Regions from separate parts of the Homo sapiens genome. Here regions 1 and 3 are each reported to be linked to region 2. The links are microRNA targets in miRTarBase. Many come from high-throughput screens and were not tested one by one. Region 2 holds a microRNA gene; each other region holds the end of a gene's coding sequence.
The links. Region 2 holds the annotated microRNA hsa-miR-6810-5p (AUGGGGACAGGGAUCAGCAUGGC, at 1,827-1,849, opposite strand). A microRNA usually pairs through its seed, bases 2 to 8, with sites in the 3' UTR of a target mRNA and lowers its output. Matches are read on the target gene's strand: a 7mer-m8 pairs with bases 2 to 8, a 7mer-A1 pairs with bases 2 to 7 and ends in A, and an 8mer does both.

Region 1 (3,253 bases), not on the chromosome of region 2:
GGGGCCGCGGCTCTGTTCTGCTCTGCTCTGCTCTGCTCCGGGGCCCGCGCGCTCTCCTGCTCCAAGCCTCAACCCTGAGCGGTTCTAGCGCCCCGCACGGTCCGCGCTGGGCCTTCTCTTCCGGGTCTGAAAACTCTAGGTCTTGGTTGAAGAATTTCGAGCTGCTTGGCCGCCTTTGCTAGCATTTTGCGCTGCCAAGAAGACCCCAGTACCCGGGGTCGAGAGAGCAGCCCTGGGATGGGACTATCCGGCCAAATTTTAGCCTTTCCTCCTGGCCACCTGTGGCTACCCTTCTTCCAGATGAACTGTAACTTTTCCGGGGCTTGTGATATTCCGATTCTGATGAAATGTGGAAGAACTCCACTGCTAGGGTAAAGCCCCGCAAGAACTTCAGGTGATAACTGACTAGGAACTGGGGGTGGGGGTGGCGGAAGCAGGGGCGCCTCCTGCGAGCACTAGGGTGGTATTCGTCCTTCTGACTCCCGCCCTCAGGCGCTCACCCCCCCGGCTCACTTCATCCCTGAGCCCCCCAGCTCTGCCGTGCCCCCTGGCCTGGCGAAAGGTGGCCTAAATAAGGCAGAATTCTACCTGAAATCACATCATGACATTCCCCGATGATGATTTTCTTCACGTTCAAAGCCCCGGGGCCAGGGCGTGGACCTACGGTCTGGGTTTGGCGGTAGCGGAAACCTCCAGGGCCAGGTGAGGAGCAGGGGAAAGTGCGGTTTGTATAAAGCATCCTCCCCACCTTTCTTCCCTAGACTCCGCTCCTCAGCTAAGTGTGCGTGCCGACGCGTTATTCTCCTTAACGCCAGAGCTGGATTGAAGCACCTCAAAATTCGATGTGCTTGGGATATCCTGCTTCCAGAATTTCGATATGTGGGGTCAGGGGAAATTGATATCGATAATGCAGACAAAACTGAGGTACAGAGGGAATCCTGAAGTTTGGCAGCAGAGCCTACAGAAGGCTTGAAGAACTATCCCAGCCCTGGCCCGCACCCAGGCCAGGTGGGGAGGCTGCCCTGGCCTGGAAACTCTTGTGACACAATTAGGGATAACAGCTAGTTCATGTTCCTATTGAAGATGGGGTCCCTTGTGGTATGCTCTTTCTTTTCTCTTGACTAAATTGTACATCTCTGATCATTCTGCCCCTACTCCATTCTCACTGCTCTTGAATCATCTCGATTTGGGGACTTAGGGGGTTGGCTGGGTCAGGAAATGATCATCTTTGCATCCATGTGTTGGCTTTGGGACTTGTTATCTGTATCTTGTATCTGGCTATGCAAGTGTAAGAAGGCTCAATCTGCTGCCTCTACTTCACCCCTGGATGGAAAAGTCGAGAACAGAGATCCTGGAATGAGCTCCAGGGGAATGTCTAAAAGTGGAGGAGATAAGCAAGACAGAGGACTGCTGAGAACTTTCCCACTCTGGCCAAGGGACTGAGGTGTGTCCTAGGCTCTCTGACTTCAGCACCTCTCCTCAACTCATTCTGAGAACTGGCCACCCCGCCTGGATGCTGGGTCTGCCAGAGACCTTGTGTCCTTCACTTGCTCAGTGCCGAAGAGATTGGCACTGAGACTGATCAGGATTTCCCAAAGAAATCTATTTGCTATAAAATCCCCCCAAAGAGCTTTTAGCAACTCCAGACATTTCACAGTTACAAGCAGGAGGACAGGTCCTGGAGAGAGGTTTAACTTTTCACCTTTAAAAGAAATAAACAAACAAAAAATCTTTGAATTGCCCATCCTAGTAGCAGTGTCAAGGTTTACTACATATTTTCCAGCTGCAGTGGGATGGGGAAACTGCCTCACGACTCTCAGCAGCTTTGGGGAGAAAGAGCTCATCTAGGCACCTCCAGTGGCCAAATTGCAAAGGAAAATTTTTGCGTGGATGAGGGAATGGAGGATGCAACTTCATAGTTCTATCCGTGGCCACATGTAGGCCAGGAAGTCCAAGTTCTGATCTGGGCTGTGCCTCTGCTTCACCTTGAAGAAGTCACCTCTTTGTTTGGCATGTTTACAACCAGGGCCCTGGCACTCTAAGACCCAAGCTTCCAGCTCTAACCACTGTGTCATGTCTGTCCTTTCCTCAGCAACATTGCAAACCTGTCCTCTACCCCATCCCGGAACAAGGAAAAGTTTGTGCAGGGCTCTGGGCCCGCGCTTCGCGTCCACATAGTGATTACAGCTGTGCCTAGATTGACCCCGCCTGGCATCACTGCCTTCCCCATTCCAACTCTGAGTACTCTAGGAACTCATTTCGTCCATACTGTGAATGGGGAAACCATCTGTTGCACTGGCCTAACAGTTTCTATGGCCTGCTCCACTCTCAGGCTACTCAGGGTCTCAGAGGGCACTTTCAGTGGCAGTTGGCGCTAGAAATCTCTTAATTAGAAGCCTCTAAACCCAGACGCCCATCTCTGATGTCTGTAACAAGATGGCTCTGAGGTTGAGCCACTTCCCCTGAAACTCCAGCCCCACCACCTTCAGCTGCTGCATTCTACAGTGTCCCCGGGACTAAGGTCCGGTTGTAGATCTCTGGCCTTAACAACCCCCAGCAAAGCCAAGCGGCCTTTACAAACCGTAGTAAACATTTTATTTACAAATTTAAGGCGTCCTAAGTGCCTTTGAGCCACGACCTCTGGGGCGAGTCAGAGAAACAGTTTAGTCAAACACCTCACAGTCGAACCAGCCTGCTTCCGGAGAGAAGTGTTCGGCTGGCTAGCAGGACACTGAGACTCCCCTCTGCTTTGGGCAGTGTCCGCTGCAGCCAGTCGGAGCAGCGTGGGGCGAAGCGTGAATGTCGGGAGGTAGGCTCCACGCTGCGTCTCCTGCCCTACCAAGTCGCCAACATACAGTAAGCACAAAACCCAGCCCATGGTTGGGAGGCTGCACGCAAGGCCCGGATCCCCTCCGCCCTAGTACAGTCTATAAGCAGCCAAGCGCGCCTTGGGCTGGCTCGGGGCTTTTGGGAGCGCTGCTGGCTGTGGGCTGTGTTGCAGGGAGAAGCTCCGAGGCGCCGCCGCCGCCAAGGCTGCTGGCGCAACCCGCACTGGTGCTGCTGCTACTAAGACTGCTGGCGCTGCTGAAGCTGAAACTATTGCCGCCGCCGCCGCTGCTCCCACCACTCCCAGCACTGCTGGCGGTAATGAGGGCGCCAGTGACCGGGGCCTTAATAACTGTTGTTTGGTGCAGAGAACGCTCACTCCCCTCAGTCCGCTCCGTGTCGCTGGGGGCCATGTCCAGGGACTCGG
Region 2 (3,253 bases):
AGCACTCCAGGAAGAAGGGAGGCCAGAACTCTGTCCCTACCCCTAGAGGTGGAGCTGTGTCGCTTCTGGGCCAGGAACTGGGCTGGCCTGCTTTCTAGGGGAGTGAGGGGGTGGGAAGGCCCTTGTCCCAGGCTGAGCGTGGGGCTGGAGGATGGGGAGTAGTAAGGGGGTGTCTCACCAGGCCACAGAAGGGTGTCATCCCCTAGCCCCAGCACAGTGTCCAGTGAGCTCAGCATGGTCTCTGCATTGCCCTCAAAGGTCCGCCCTGGGTGGGGGTTGGAGGGTATGTCACAAGGTGCCAGGATAACACAATATGGCATAAGGCACACCCAGACAGGTGGGAACCAGCTTGTAATGCTCTGGCTGGCCGTCAGCCCTGACTGTGCACTTTCCAGACCCACCCCAGGCATCTATTCCCTCCTCACTGGGAACTGGGCCCAACTGGTCACCCCCTGACCAAGCCCATCCGAGGCCTCCGTTGCACACAGTGACACCTGAAGGGAGGGGCTGTGGAATCTTCGGGCTGCAGGCCCCAGGCTTGGTAGACGCAGGGCTGCTCTTTCCCACGGAACACTTCTTCGCCTAGGCTGCCCTTTGGGATTTCATGCAGCCTGGGACTTGTGATCCTCACCCACCCACTCACCTAGCTGTTCTTAACTTTTCATAACCTAGTCCTGCCAGTCACTGTATCAGAGAACCAGTCTCCACCCAGGGGAAACTAATTCCCTGCAGGGCTTTACTCAGCTACAGACATTCTCCCATTCTGTCCCGCAGCTGGCAGAAGTCTTTTTTATTTTTGAGACAGAGTCTCATTGTTGCCCAGGCTGCAGTGCAGTGGCACAATCATAGCTCACTGCAACCTTGAATTCCTGGGCTCACCACCACACTGGCTAATTTTTGTATTTTTTGTAGAGACGGGGTTTCACCATGTTGCCCAAGCTGGTCTTGAACTCCTGGGCTCAAGCAATCCACTTGCTTTGGCCTCCCAGAGTTCTGGGATTACAGGCCTGAGTCACTGCTCCTGGCCTATATTATTTATATTATTTAAATTTTTTTTTCTGTTTTGTGACAGAGTCTCACTCTGTCTTCCAGGTTGGAGTGCAGTGGCGCGATCTCAGCTCGCTGCAACCTCTACCTCTCGGGTTCAAGCAGTTCTCCTGTCTCAGCCTCCCTAGTAGCTGGGATTACAGGCATGCACCACCATGCCCGGCTAATTTCTGTATTTTTAGTAGAGACGGGGTTTCACCATGTTGACCAGGCTGGTCTTGAACTCCTGACCTCAGGTGATCCTCCCACCTCAGCCTCCCAAAGTGCTGGGATTACAGGCATGAGCCACCACGCCTGGCCTATTTTAAAATTTTTTTGTAGAGACAGTCTTGCTATTTTGCCCAGTCTGGTCTCCAACTCCTAGCCTCAAGTGATCCTCCTGCCTCAGCCTCCCAAGGTGCCCCAAGGGAAGTCTCAAGGATTAAAACCAATCTGAGTAACACAGATGGAAGTAACTGCCACGGCAACATCTGTGCTAAAACTAAGGCTTCAGTGCTCTCCATGGGACTGTGGCTGCCCTGGCTTCTGTCTCTCCCTCCTCTCCCAGCTCCTCTCTCTTTCGGGGAAACTCACCACAGCCAGAGAGGAAGAGCAGGTCCCCTGAGAAGAGGCAGGAGGGACCCTTGTAGGGCTCCCCATCCAGTAGGTAGACCAGATGGCCTTGTGTGTGGCCAGGTGTAGCCAGGGCCCGGATCTGAAGCCGTCCCACGCTGACCACATCTTGATGACACAGGGGACTGGGGAACAAGGGAGCAGGGGACAGAAGGTATTGGATCTGTGCCATGCTGATCCCTGTCCCCATCCCAGGCCCAAGGGGCTGGGTGATTCACAAGAGAGTGGGCTTCCATACAAAAGAAGTCACCCCAGTGCCTCGGGTCTCAGGTCCGAACCCTCCCCCTTTCCTCTTTTGGGGACTATGGCTGGATCAGTTGGGGGATGGGCAGTGCCAGTCTTCAGATAGGCTGGGATTGGGCCAGGAAGGGCACTGGCAAAGATCCACCTGCTGATACCCCTGAAACACTTCACTGAAGGCTGGGGGTGGGGGAAAGGGCCCATGGAAGGGCCATCCCTTGCCTAGGTCAGGGACTTACTGGGTGAGGTAGGGGATGCCGTCCTGAGGGCTCCCGTACACCCGACAGTCCCGGTGCCGCCGGCTGAGGTCACGGTTCCCTCCACTGTGGTCCCTGCAGGACAGCAGAGACAGGCAGGGGGCTTCGAGGGGCAACTGTACCTAAGCCCCCTTCTTTACCACAGCATCTCCAGGCCTTTAAGTGCTGGGGCTGTGGCTTCTGGACTAAGCCAAGTTGTCCACACCTCTAGGCCTTTGTTCAAGCTGTTCCCTTGCCCAGAACATCGCCCCCAACAACTCAAGCTGGCCAATGCCAGCCGAGCTTCCTGAACCCTCAGCTCAGGTCATCATCTTTCAATTCTCCAAGTGGATCTGATCACACCGTGCCTGGGCCTCCCATCCCTGTTCCCTGTGCCAACTGTTACCTAAATATCACATACTTCTTTTTTGAAGACAAGGTCTCACTATGTTGCCCAGGTTGGGCTTGAACTCCCAACCCTCTTGCCTCCGCTGTTATATACTTTGATACAGGGCTACCTCCCCTATTGGTCTTAGAATTTCCTTGATGGAAGAGTCATAACTTTTGTCCATGCCCAGTGTGCAGTAGGTATCTAATACATGCCCATGAAATGAAAGAGAAATGACTGCCCTGCCCTCTGGGGCTTCAGAAGCTTGATCAATGGAGTGGTGGGAGACTGTCCCCTCTCCTCCCTCCCTGCTGGTGTCCAGGTGACTTCACGAGGAAGGCGGGTGCCGGCCCGTACTGACTTCTTGATCTCTGGCCCCGGCCGTCCTCAATGGGCCCAGTCCTGGCAAGCCCAGCTGGGACAAGGGTGGGCCAGGGAAGACGGGAGCCCCTTACCAGTGCTTGTGAGTACACAGAATGGCGACCAAGGTGACCCCTTCCTTTTCAATGGAAGCCTGCGAGAGAGAGGAGGTTTGGAGACTGGGGAGCAGGATGCAAGAGGCACTTGAAGCAGCAAGAGCCAGGAGTGTGGGCGCTGGTGGAGAGGAGAGGAGAGCATGGAGAGATGAAGCAGAGGAAAGGGATGGAGCTGGAGGGGAGAGATCCAGGAATGTGAAGCACGGGGCACATGGAGGCAGAGGGACACTTGTACATAGAGAGAGGCAGACACA
Region 3 (3,238 bases), not on the chromosome of region 2:
CAAAAAAAATTTTTTTTTAAATTTAACTGTCAAGAAAGTGTATAGTGTTATAATACAATGGCACATGTTTATATTTTATTTCAAATTGGTTTGCTTATCACCTATTTCAAACCATTAACAGTGAAATGTTACTTGTGGATAATTAAAAATTATCTATTTGCATTATTAACAATAAACAATTCCAACAAATTAATAAGAATTAACCATGTCAAATATTAGTATTCAAAAAATGGGATTTGCAGAAATGATTATATAAAATATAGCAGCCAATTTCAGTTTACTTTGCCAATAGGATTTCAGCATTTGCTTTTTTTTGGAAGACACTTATAAGACATCCTTTGATTTCTTGAGGGGCATTAACTGCCACACTCAACAGTCAAATCCAGCCCAGTGGTTCATGAACGGCCCTGGATCACTGATCACTGAGGAATCCTTAGGACTTGAGTAGCGCTGCCTGTTCCACTGATATTACATATGATGAAAAGAGACATTACAAGCCAATATCAAAGTCAAAGGAAAAGAAAATAGGAACATTCAAATCAGTTGTGACAAGGTTTTTCTACAAGTATTTTTGATGCCATACTTTCAGGAAAACAAGATTTAATGTGTGTGTGGACTTTACAGTATCTACGTTCTAACTGAAAATTTAACAAAGCAGTCAGATGGAATTACATGTAGTATTACAAATGTGTTCATTCAACACTAATGAGCACCCACTCTGTGCATAGCACTGGGCTACCATTTTACAAGTTGAGTTTAACGTCTTTATCAAGCATGACCTTAGTGTGAGGTAAAATACATTAAATTAGCGTCAACGCGTTAGTCTGCTTGCGGCCATGTACGGAATCCTGGGCCAGCTGGCTTCCCTGTGCCACGTCACCGGTTTCTCAGGTCTCCTCATTCACTCAGACAAATACGTGCACACTGACTGTGTGTCAGACAGTGTGCCGGTCACTCGGACACCACAATCTGGTATAGGTTCAAAGAATGTAAATTTATCATTTTAACCTATGCAGAACAATTAGAAAGGCAGATTATTTTTCCAAAATGAGGTCCAAAGCAAACTATAAGGTGTTTCTATTGGTCATACCACACCAGAGACCGGTAAGTGCCTTTATAGACTGAGAACTAACGTGGAAGTTTCATGCTGTCGTCTAAATAGCCTAGGTCATTTTTGGTCTCATAGGTCTATTTTGTGGAGCACCTGACCCCATATAAATCATTCCATACTTAAATGGGTTTGTAAACTAAACCTGAACATAAACAAAGAGCCAAAAATGAAGGCAGTTTACAATGTAATGTTCTTCAACAGCATTACTCTCCCCATGAGAAATGAATAATACATAAGTAATTCACAATTGGTTCAACATTTTTTTTTCTTTTTTTTTTCCTTTTTTTTTTTTTTGAGACTGAGTCTTGCCCTGTCGCTCAGGCTGGAACGCAGTGGTGCGATCTCGGCTCACTGCAGCCTCCACCTCCCAGGTTGAAGCAATTCTCCTGCCTCAGCCTCCCGAGTAGCTGGGATTACAGGCGTGCACCACCACGCCGGGCTAATTTTTTATATCTTTAGCAGAGATGGGGTTTCACTATGTTGGCCAGGCTGGTCTCGAACTCCTGACCTCATGATCCACCCGCCTCGGCCTCCCAAAGTGCTGGGATTACAGACGTGAGCCACCGCGCCCAGCCGGTTCAACATTTTTTCAAAGCACTAACCCTACCCCAAATTCATGTAATACTAACTTGACTTTTATACAAGTTGCACAGAATGCAGAGGGCAGAATTTGACCCCAAAACCTTCCACAGAATATCAGAGGTGATTGGTCCTTCCACTCTTGAGTAGAACCTAAGAATTCCAAGAGTCTCCTAATAGGATACTGGCCCTCTGGAGAAATGGCCCTGCTGGATCCCATTAGTTAGGACTCTAGTTAGCTGCTGTAGAAGGGTGACCTACTACGACCCTTTTGGGGAAGGCAGAGAGCTGGGAGACTGGCTGTCCACTTAGTGAATCCAACACTGGCTTAAAGCTATGCACTGAATAAAGTGCTCGGTACATCCTGCTTTTCACCTGGAATGAAAATACACACTTATCTTAGGAATTCACCTACTTACAGGTTTGGGGGACAAGAATGTCAAGGGCTAAAAGAATCCCAAGAAAAAGTATGAAGCATTGACTAGGAGGGAACAAATGCTTCTAGTAGTGTTCTTAGAATTCTTAGGATCTGAAATGTCAGAATGAGTCACACGCTGGTCATGCTCCATACAATGAAAGCAATCCTGCTTGATACTATTCACACGGTGCATGATTACTTCACGGGGGTGGAACGGAACAGTCTGTCGCCATTTGATAGTATGGTTCCAGAATGAAAACAAAACCACTGAATAAATCAGGGTAAGCAGTGTGTAACACTCCTTCCTGTCCATCGGTTTTCCACAGGGTGATTTGCACTGCCTGAGAGAAAGGAGGCAAGATACCTATCCCTTCTGATACACACAGGCACGACCACTACCGCCTCCAATTGCCAATTCAGAAGCTAACACACAAGCCCTCCAGTTCGTACCCTGAATATGGTAATTAAGACTAGGAATGGAGCAGTTCAGTCTAAAAAATATCACAGGTAACAGAATGCTTATATAAACTAGACTGCTTTTGACATCTGTAAGAAAATTGTATAGATGGCAGTTGGAAAAAAAAAAAAAAGATTGTTCCCATCTGTCAGCAAAACTGTTGAACTATACTCAGCTGAAGTCCTCATCGGGATTCTGTTGATCCAGCAGACGGACATGTGTGAATGGGAAGTGACCTCGTTTGCCATTACACTCCCCTTCCCACTGACCACTCACATTAATCTTCGTAACCTTTACCAGCTCACCGACCTGCAGGAGGAGAATAAGGAGAGCACTTTATTTCCAGGTAGGAATGCAAGCTGAACAACTCCATTCTCTGGTTAGGCACACCCTGCCCATGTGACTGCTCTAGGGATATTACAGAAATGGCCATTTGCTGCCTCCCCAGCCCCAGCCACCAGACTGATTACTTGTGGTTAATGCAGGCAGAAGGAAAAGTGTTTTTAGCAGTGTGGAAAAACAGAGAATACAGAAAGTAAAAGGGATTCCAGATAATGATACTTTTTGATTAAAAAAGGAAAGTGATAATTATTGGAAATCTCAGCTGTCTCTGCATGAGCAATCCCAACTTCAGTGAGTTAGCTACTATTCCCTTTCTTTGTACTCACTACCC

Region 1: miRTarBase lists HLX as a target of hsa-miR-6810-5p. The part of its 3' UTR that is shown has no 7-base or 8-base seed match.
Region 3: the mRNA of CRK is a reported target of hsa-miR-6810-5p. Seed matches in the 3' UTR shown: 7mer-A1 at 1,962-1,968.

Annotation. Positions count from the first base shown.
Region 1 is chr1:220,884,379-220,887,631 of GRCh38, reverse strand. HLX (H2.0 like homeobox) reads right to left here. Exons shown (of 4, transcript NM_021958.4): 4 at 2,573-3,253. The coding sequence ends at 2,928. Among named protein-coding and RNA genes, the nearest start is that of HLX-AS1, 5.9 kb to the right of the region's middle.
Region 2 is chr2:218,340,512-218,343,764 of GRCh38, reverse strand. It overlaps MIR6810 (microRNA 6810), which reads right to left and starts at 1,854; the gene lies at 1,785-1,854. It overlaps PNKD (PNKD metallo-beta-lactamase domain containing), which reads right to left. Exons shown (of 10, transcript NM_015488.5): 5 at 2,979-3,037; 6 at 2,139-2,231; 7 at 1,621-1,784; 8 at 179-265. All of the region lies in intron 2 of CATIP-AS2 (CATIP antisense RNA 2), which reads left to right. RefSeq lists an enhancer at 1-247.
Region 3 is chr17:1,420,777-1,424,014 of GRCh38, forward strand. It overlaps CRK (CRK proto-oncogene, adaptor protein), which reads right to left. Exons shown (of 3, transcript NM_016823.4): 3 at 1-2,874. The coding sequence ends at 2,737. Among named protein-coding and RNA genes, the nearest start is that of CRK-AS1, 2.2 kb to the right of the region's middle.